Linked DNA regions of Homo sapiens: region 2 is linked to region 1. Evidence: fine-mapped expression QTL. A gene starts in region 1. The other region holds a variant in brackets. All regions are shown on one strand. Distances are from middle to middle. Region 1 holds the start of CRHR2 (corticotropin releasing hormone receptor 2). Region 2 overlaps LOC105375220 (a long non-coding RNA gene).

What was found. PIP is the estimated chance that this variant, and not a neighbour inherited with it, causes the effect.
Region 2: its variant is fine-mapped to the expression of CRHR2 in thyroid (GTEx, PIP above 0.99). The same link has a PIP of 0.9 or more in aorta, atrial appendage, breast, coronary artery, esophagus mucosa and esophagus muscle.

What each region holds. Positions count from the first base shown.
Region 1 is chr7:30,680,486-30,684,867 of GRCh38, forward strand. It overlaps CRHR2 (corticotropin releasing hormone receptor 2), which reads right to left and starts at 1,971. Exons shown (of 12, transcript NM_001883.5): 1 at 1,693-1,971; 2 at 1,430-1,555. The coding sequence starts at 1,795. It overlaps LOC124901608 (a long non-coding RNA gene), which reads left to right and starts at 2,134. Exons shown (of 2, transcript XR_007060275.1): 1 at 2,134-2,588. RefSeq lists a silencer at 1,993-2,042.
Region 2 is chr7:30,707,062-30,711,443 of GRCh38, forward strand. All of the region lies in intron 1 of LOC105375220 (a long non-coding RNA gene), which reads left to right. Among named protein-coding and RNA genes, the nearest start is that of CRHR2, 27 kb to the left of the region's middle. RefSeq lists an enhancer at 378-878. The variant T/C (reference allele first, on the strand shown) is at 1,646.

The DNA of each region.
Region 1 (4,382 bases):
ATCTCCGGGCCCAGTCTGAATCAGGCATGCTGATCTCCATTGCCCCACCCCACACAGCTCACGGAATCCTAAAAATACAGTTTTATAAGGTCAGGACTAGGAAGGCACAGGGAAATCATTCCTTCTGCTTGCACACCTCCTAGCTTGGGGATCTTACTTCCTTCTAGGGAGATCTGTTTTAATCATGGATGGGAAGCATGTGCTCCCTGGGCCCACCAGAGCCCTCAGCTGGTGCAGCCAGGAGAGTGCGGCTTGGCATCAGGTGCAGGTACATCTCTCTTGCCTTCTAACCATCTCTCATGGCAAAGCCCTCAGCCTCAGCTTCTGAAAGCTTGTGTGTGTGTGTGTGTGTGTGTGTGTGTGTGTGTGTATGTGTGGTGGAGGTGGAGCTGGGCTACCAATCAGACACAGACACTCTGAGGATGTTTCCAGGATGAGAGGCTTCAGACAAACAATCCAGATAGGGTCTCAGCGTGCTTGACAACTGGGGTCCGGCTGGAGATATCAGGGGGGTTCTAGGTGGGGCAGTGATTGCTGCCCCCACAGCCTCCCGCAGACCACACACCTGGCTCCCATCCCATGTTCCACAGGGCACAGACAGGCACCTACCCACACGCACACACCCAGAACCCACACTGAACGACCCCACCTGGAGGCTGTGTAACTCCAGCAACCTCTACTGCCCTTTTCCCCAGAGCCTCAAGCCAGTCCATGATTTGCCAGGAGGAAGGCAGGCACAGGTTGTTCTCCTTGAGAGATGGTGTTGGGGTGCTGATTCAGACACCACTCATTATGGGGGCGCAGGAATAATGCTGCCCACAGCCCCTGACTCAGCCCAGCAGGTCAGTCCTGGGACCTCGGATTAGGGAAGATGCAACACCCCGCACCCTCTGGCTTAGCAGAACCTACGCCTGCATGTCCTCCCCACGAAACATGCGCTCGCCCCAGCCCTCCTGCCTCCTACCCTCCTCCTCCCCTCTGGTAGTAGGGTCTGGTCACTGCACTCACTCTGGGGGATTTGGGACTTAGCATATCCGCCCTCCTGGGATAGGTCCCCCTCCTGGGCAGGGGAAGCATTGTCTAAACAATGAAGCCCTAATGGGGAACTTCAGGCAACGGGAACCTACAATGAGGGAAGGAGGTTTACACTCCAAGAGGAGGAAGTATTTCCTTCTCCCCTTTTTGGGCTGTCACCGCATGGAGCACGGGAATTGTGGGCAAATCACTGGCTTACTGAGATTAGACGCTGTATTGGGGGTAGAAGCAGAAGGCGCGCCCCCAACACTGTAAGGGGTCCTTAACGCCCGCGGTCCGCGGTACCGCGGCCGTCAGCAGCTTTGTACCGCTGGGTCCGGAATCCTCTTTACTCCCTAAACCGCCTTCTCAGGAGGCCGGTGTAGAGCAGGCAGCGAGGGCCGGGGGCACTCACGGGTCGTGTTGTACTTGACGCCGTTGAAGTACTCGGGGCACGGCCTCTCCACGAGGGCTCCGGCAGCGCTGCGGGGCCAGCACGTTCCGATCTGGTCCAAGGTCGTGTTGCAGTAGGAGTAGGGACCTGGCGGCGGGAGAGAGCGCAGTAGGGCTCAGAGGGGCCCGCAGGGACGCGGGGCTCTCGGAGCGCGGGGTCAGGGGCGCACCCAGCGCGCGAGAGAAGGAGCCCGCGCAGCCTCCGACCGCTCGCCTCCCGCCTACCCTCGGGGTCCAGGGGTGGCCCCCAGCCGTCCAAGAGCAGCTCTTCAGCCAGCGCCAGGCTGCAGTTGGCCTCCAGCAGGCTGTGGAGCAGTGCCGCGTCCATCGCGTCCCGCAGCCGCGTGCGGAGAGGGAGTGGGAGTGCGCGCCCGGCGTGACTGCGAGGGAGTGGACGCGAGAGTGAGCGGCCGAGAGGGCGCGGGGTCCTGGCCCCCGCCAGCCCAGCCCCGATCTCCCGGGCAGCCTTTGGGCGCCACCTCCGGTCGCCCAGAGCTGTCAAGTGGGGACCTTCCCGGAGAGGAGCCGCCGAGTGCACGGAGCTGCGGGTACAGCCGCTCCGCCGCGGCCAATGGCTGCGCCGGGGGGCGGGGCCGGGCGGCTCCTCTCGGAGGGGCTCAGTCTCCAGCCCCCGGGCCCTCCACCCTGCCCAAAGTACGGCTTCTCAGTTCGCAGCTCTCTTCCACTCGCGGCGTCCAGAGGAGGGCGGTGGGCTGGAGAGCGTGGGCCTGGGGTGACGGAATGCTCTGTGCGGGGATCGCAGGCCCCCGAGCTGCAGGGGGCAGCAAAGCGCGCCCACCTGCCCGCCTGCCCGAGGAGAACACCGCAGCTCTGCTAATCGAGGGACAGCCGCAACCCAAAGTTCGGCAGCTTTCCGCCTGAGCTTCCCCTCCCTGAGCGAGGACACTGGAGGGAGGCAGAGACGGAGAGCCCATGGGCAGATCTGCATCCTCCAAAAGCCTCCATAGCCTCTGGGAAGGAAATGTATCGAGGAGGCCTGGAGGGAAGCAGGGAGACACCCATGAGTCTAATGAGATCAAGTGGCCTGAGTGGGTTGAAGTCCTTGGATCAGACCGTGGAAGCTGGAATGGAGAGAGATTTCGGAGGGGCAGCCAGACCTGGTGAGGAGGAACTGGAGTGGGTGGCTGGTTTTAAGTAGGAGCCCAGAGGCAGGGATAACATCAGGTCTCCTGCTTGAGTGACTGGGTGGCCATTTAATCAGATGGAGTAAGTCTAGGGGAGAAATTGGCTGAAATTATCTGGAAGGCTTTATACACCCAGTTGTTAGTGCCTTGGGCACCAGAAAGAATAAAGGAAGAAGTGAGAATGTGTCTCTCTTCCTCAAGGCTTGGGCAGGGCTTCACCTGACCCTGGTTTCCACACCAGTAGCGGGGCAGGGGCGGGGAGAATCAGGCCCCACAGCAGGTGTGGAGGAGCTGGAAACCTCCCCAGAGAACTTGCCCAGGCCCCCCACCCCACCCTGGCCCAGAATGCCTCCTTGGTGATCTGCTGTGGCTGCACCCTCAGAGTGCCCAGGGCGGGCCTGCTGTGTCTGCCAGCTGAGTGGGGCATTGGGCTCGGGAAGCAGGGCCTGGGGTAAGGCATGCTTCCACTCAGGCTGCATTTTGGTCCAGCCTCTGACTCTGCTCTCCCTGCCATGGTACCCCAGGCAGGATGCTTGCCCTCTCTTCTGGAGCTTTCTCCATCAGTGAAATCTTCCCCGAGGCCCCTCTCAGCTCTGAGACTCTCTGGTTCTGAGTTATGAGACGGAGAGTCTGGGGAAGACATACATGTGTGTTGTGTGTTGTTTGTTTCTATCTTTAGAGGGCAAGGAGAGCTGGAACCTAGTCTCAGAAACCAGTCCTGTTCCCCTGCCATCCTCCACATAAACCTAAGCTGCTAGGAAAGGCTGAAACCACCATGAACTAGCACCATGCCCTGGGCAGAGAGAGGCAAAGCAGCAGGCAGGCTGCTTTTGTGTGCTCCGCTCTCACCAGCCTCCATATTAATGGTGCTGTCACTGCCCAGGCAGAGCGAGTGAGACCACACTAAGACCAGGGCTGAGCCCTGGAATCTCTCCAGGGCCTGCTGACTGGCAGGAACAAGATGCTGAGCAGCCAGCCAGGTCTACCCTCTGCCTCCTGAATGGACAGTGAGAGCCCAGGCTCAGCTCTGGGCAGCTGCAGAGGTAGAGGTTCCTTGGTCTTCATATTATCCAGTGCCAGGAGCAGGGGAGGACCTAGGCAGAGTCCTACCCTCCGCTCCTAGACTGAGCCCTGTTACCCAGGGTCCCACACAGGCCAGAGGGTGGCTGGCCAGGTCAGCCCATGTATTCACAGGGCAATAGTGTCCCTCATATACAAGGGATAGCCCTTCACACAGCACGGTGCAGCACAGAGGAAGGGAGAAATCCTAAGCCAAGCTTAAGTTATTATCCTTGTTCATTACTGCAGCCACCACCTAGGTGGTGCCTAAAGCACCTATAGATGCAGCTATGTCAAGAGGTGGTGTGCTCCCAATGACCAGAGGCCAGGGACTTCTCATCTCATGCAGATTTCTGCAGAACAGAGGGTTGGCCTGGGTGAACTGGATTGCTCTTAACTGGGAGAGCTCACATACCAAAGATTCTTCTGGGAAGTGACCATTTCAGTGGCAGAGTCAAAGGCTGTTCTGCATCCTGAATGAGCAGTTGGGGTCTGAGCACATACCCACAGACCCACAGACCCGAGGTCCCCTGGATGTGGGGCCATTTCTTCATGGATCTTATTATTATAGGCACAGTTGTCATTCGAGATGTGACAGAGGGAAAACTAGAAAAGGTAGCAGTTTGGGAACAAATTGATTTTACAGCTCACTTTAGTGTCTGCAAACAGGCAAATGAGGAAGAAATTGGGAAGAGCCCCAAAATTCCCTCA
Region 2 (4,382 bases), 27 kb after region 1:
TGGGTAAGGCAGACTTTGGAGGTTTCCACCATGGGAGTGACAAGGGCTGGAACGTGGGAAGAATAGGGTGGAGGATGGCTTGGCTGGGACACGCCCAGGGGCAGGGAGATCAGGCAGCAGACTCTGCAGGGACGTGATGGTGGCCTGAGTCCTGGTCCAGATGCTGCTATCCAGAGAACACTGCAGCCAGAAGGGACCTTGACAGTCACTCGATTCATGCTTCCATCTCACAGGTGGAGAAACCAAGGCCCCATGAGGCCTGGGACCTGGCATTTTCAGGAAGGCCACCCCCAGGAAGGCTTCTTCCCCAGCCACTTAGCTGGCCCTCTCCCCAACCTTTTTCTGCCTGCTCAGTGAGACAAATCAATGACACATGTCTCTTCCTCTTGTTCTGGGCCACGCTGCCTCTACGGCAGGGTGATGTTGTGGGGCCTTGAGCTTGGGGCTCCCCAGAGGGCAAGAGCCTGAGACAGCAGGTCAATAAAAGGTGAGTGGTCGACGGGATTGGCAGATCCTGGACTCAGCCCTTCACTGGGCAAATGTCAGGCCCAGTGGCTGGGCAGCTTGGGGGCATTTCCACCTGAATGCAGGGACAAGACCACCGGCCAGTGGCATCAGACTGGCAAGGTGAGGAGGTGGCCTTTTGTAATGGAGTCACCTGTGTCCAGAACAGCTGTCCTCCCCTTGGGCCATGGGAGGACAAAGGAGAGAGCCAGAGGAAACCAGAGCCGAATGCCACATTGACTTCAGAGTGCTCTCCTGGTGGCTGGTGGGGCTGGGTGGGGTAGTGTGAGAGTGAAGCCAGCGGCCTGCAAGGTTTGTCCTCTGCCTAGTTCACTTGGCCTGGAGCCTGAACTGGGAGGGAGGATTCCGGTCTGGCTGTAAGACTTACTGGCTGTGAGCCCTTGGAGAAAAGGGATTCATCGTCTGGACCTCAAGTTTCTCATCTGTGAAATGGAATCGTCTCCATGGCTGAGCTGCCTTACATTGCCCCTGGGTCATGTTTACGTTCTTACGGATCCAGCCTCCCTGCCAGGGGTTCCCTGGTCTCTGCTCGGCTACTCCCTGGGCTGGGGCTGATGGCCTCTCAGGCAGACACTCTGATCATCATCATAGCCTGCCGGTGAGTAGTCTGAGCTAGGCTGTCAGTAGAGAAGGGTGGGATCCACTTTCTTCCACTCTGATCTCTTCTCCACAGCCCTCAGTTATTCCTGGAATTAGACAAAGCCCTGAAAAAATGCGAAGTAGGGGACGTGGAAGTATGATAGCTGCAACTAGCACCTCCTGGCTCACCCCTCCCACCTTCCCAAGATACACCGAAGTTATCAATAATGCTGAAGGCTAGAAATAAGCCAGAAGCAAGGGGAGATGTTTAACTAATTGAAGCCCAAAGAAAGGAGTGAAACAGAACAACACCGAAGCCACTGTTTGCCCTGCCTTCCGTCTGGGGAAAGGAGGAAAGCCGTGTTCCTACTGTGTGAGGGCTGCATTCTCCTTGGCCTCCCTCATCCATATCTCTTACCATGTGGTGACAGCTGTCCTTTGAGATTTAACTCAAGTTGCTGTGAGCACGCTATCCTGCCTCCCTGAGGGGGTTCAGTGACCTCCATGGGCATGTATGTGTTCCAGGGAGCTCATGTTCTCA[T/C]GGCCCCCTCCAGTCAGAGTCCCAGCTTCTTCTTTTTTTTTTTTTATTTTTTTTTGAGACAGGGTCTTGCTCTTGTTCCCAGGCTGAAGTGCAGTGGCATAATCATAGATCACTGCAGCCTCCACTTCCCAGGATCAAGCAATTCTCCCACCTCAGCCTCCCAAGTAGCTGGGACCAACTGTGCCCAGGTTTTTTTTTTTTTTTTTTTGGTAGATAAGGGGTCTCTCTATGTTGCCCAGGCTGGTCTCGAACTCCTGGACTCTGATTTCTTCTGTGGGCCCAGCTGTGTGCCAGCTCTGATCAGGAAATATGGGAAGAGGAGACCCAGGCCCATCCATGAAGATGAGATGGGGGGAGGAAGAGAAGCAGAGGAAAAATCCAGCCTCATTCTTGGGAGGCTGACTTACCCACAGTCAGGGAACAGCCTAGGCTGGGTGTGAGCTGGAGGCTGCGAGATTGTGCAAGAGGGATGGGAGGTCACAGGGGCTGGAACCTGTGGCAAAGGATCCCAGGGGAATCAAAGGATGGAAACGATTGGGTGGTAGAAAAAAGGGAAAGAAACTCATTCCCATTGCTTCACGCTCTGGGAAGGCCATCACAATGCTATTCTTAGAAGGAAGCATATTTAATGGGAAAGTTAAATCCCACACCCATCTAAACCCTTGACTTCTGCATTTCCAAATACAGGGCTTGGTGAGTTACCTGAAACTGTATTAATAACAGCTAATGCATACATAGCCTTGGTCCCTGGTAGGCATAATTCTAATCCTTTCAGATATACCCTATAAATGTATATAATCCCTATATAAAACCATATTGTTACCTGTGTTTTAGGGATGAAGAAACTGAAGCACAGAGAGCTGAGGTCATGGGCCCAAGGTCACAGCTCTAATAATAAGCAGTGGATCTAGGAGTTGACCCAGCAGTCTGGGTCAGGAGTCCATGCTCTTAACTACTGTGCTATGGTGCCCTTCTGTGGGAAGGGCCACGCAGCGCCTGCAGGTCCTTAGAAATACCTCTCTTGTTTTCCCAGGGCTTGCTATGAGAGTATCACTCACCCATCCCCCGCCCCTGGTCCTCCTGCTGAATTTCAGAGCCCATCTAGCCATCAACTACCCGCGCCTCCACTGCTCTTACCGGGAGGCTGTTTGTGAAGGCAGAATTGGAATTTCTGAGTAAAATTTTCTTTCTCTTTATTTCAGAAATATAGTTCTCTCAAACTGAGCACCAGAGCTATTGATTCAGCAATAATAGAAAGTATTTGTGTGGAGAACCATGCCTCCTTGCACAATCTGCTAATGTTCTCGTTGGCAGGTATATAGAATATTGACAAAGGAAATTCAAGTTGTCCTGAATTTCCCCCAGCTTCTCAGGAAGAAGGGGAAATTAGTTTTGAACATGGCATAAATACCATCACAGTTGTCCCCAAATATTGATTCTTTGCAGTGTCTTTTATTATATGCACATAATAGGAGCTCAATAGGAATTGACTAAAGCCAGATTGCCTGGTGAGAATTCTGTCTGCTGTGCTCTAGCTGTGTGACCTTGGGTGAGTGACTTCCGTTCTCTGGCTCACAATTCCCTTTGTAAAGTGGAGCTGACAATAGTACCTTTCATGGTACCTACCTCTTTGGATCATGGGGAACTACATGTATGAATCTAGGCCCAGTGGTTAAATCAGCGCCTGGCCCATCGTACACCCTCAGTCAAAGACTAGCTGCTACTGTGACAGGCTTCAAGTGGAAGAGTGAAAGCAAAATATGGCTTGGATGGAAGAGGTCACCCTGGCCACCCTGCTCCTGATGATTGGCACCAGAAGTGACTTTGATCTTTTACAGATATTTGCACTGTTGATGAAAATCTAGCAAGAGTTGGCAAATTAATACTGTATACAAAAATAGAGAATTTTGCAAGTAACTTTAGAGAACATCTAGCTTAATTCCCCTCATTTTAGATGTGCAAAGTGAGGCCCAGAGAGGGGAAGGGCTTGCTCAGGCTTCTACAGTTGGTCCCTGTCAGAGCTGGGACTTAAGTCCCTCTAGGGAAGAGGCTACGCTGCTTCTCCAGGTTCATTTCTTTATCCATGGCTGTGACCAAATAAAAGATTCAAAGGTCAGAGAATCAACATACTGCCTTTGGGAAAAGAAATCACAGCTCAAGTTGGCACGTTTGGCGCTGAGTCACCAGCATACACTGCTAGGGAGGGACAGCAGCCATCAGTTTAATAACCTCTAAGCCATGTGACTAGTTAACCAGGGAATTCTTTTTTTTTTTTAATTATTATTTTTTGAGATGGAATTTCATTCTCATTGCCCAGGCTGGAGTGCAATGGCGCAATCTTGGCTCACTGCAACCTCTGCCTCCCAGGTTCAAATGATTTTCCTGCCTCAACCTCCTGAGTGGGACTACAGGCATGCGCCACCATGCCTGGCTAATTTTGTATTTTTAGTAGAGACAGGGTTTCTCCATGTTAGTCAGGCTGGTCTCGAACTCCCGACCTCTGGTGATGCGTCCACCTCGGCCTCCCAAAGTGCTGGGATTACAGGCGTGAGCCACCACACCCAGCCAACCAGGGGATTCTTTCTGAGAAGTTCTCACCATGATTTTCTTCCTGGTCATTGATGACTGATCCCATGGGTAATATGTGTTTCTAATCATTAGAACCATGGTGATGACATTGCAGGAACCAGAGATGCTTTTCTACCCAGTTCTCAGGGAGGATGCATGACACCCTGAG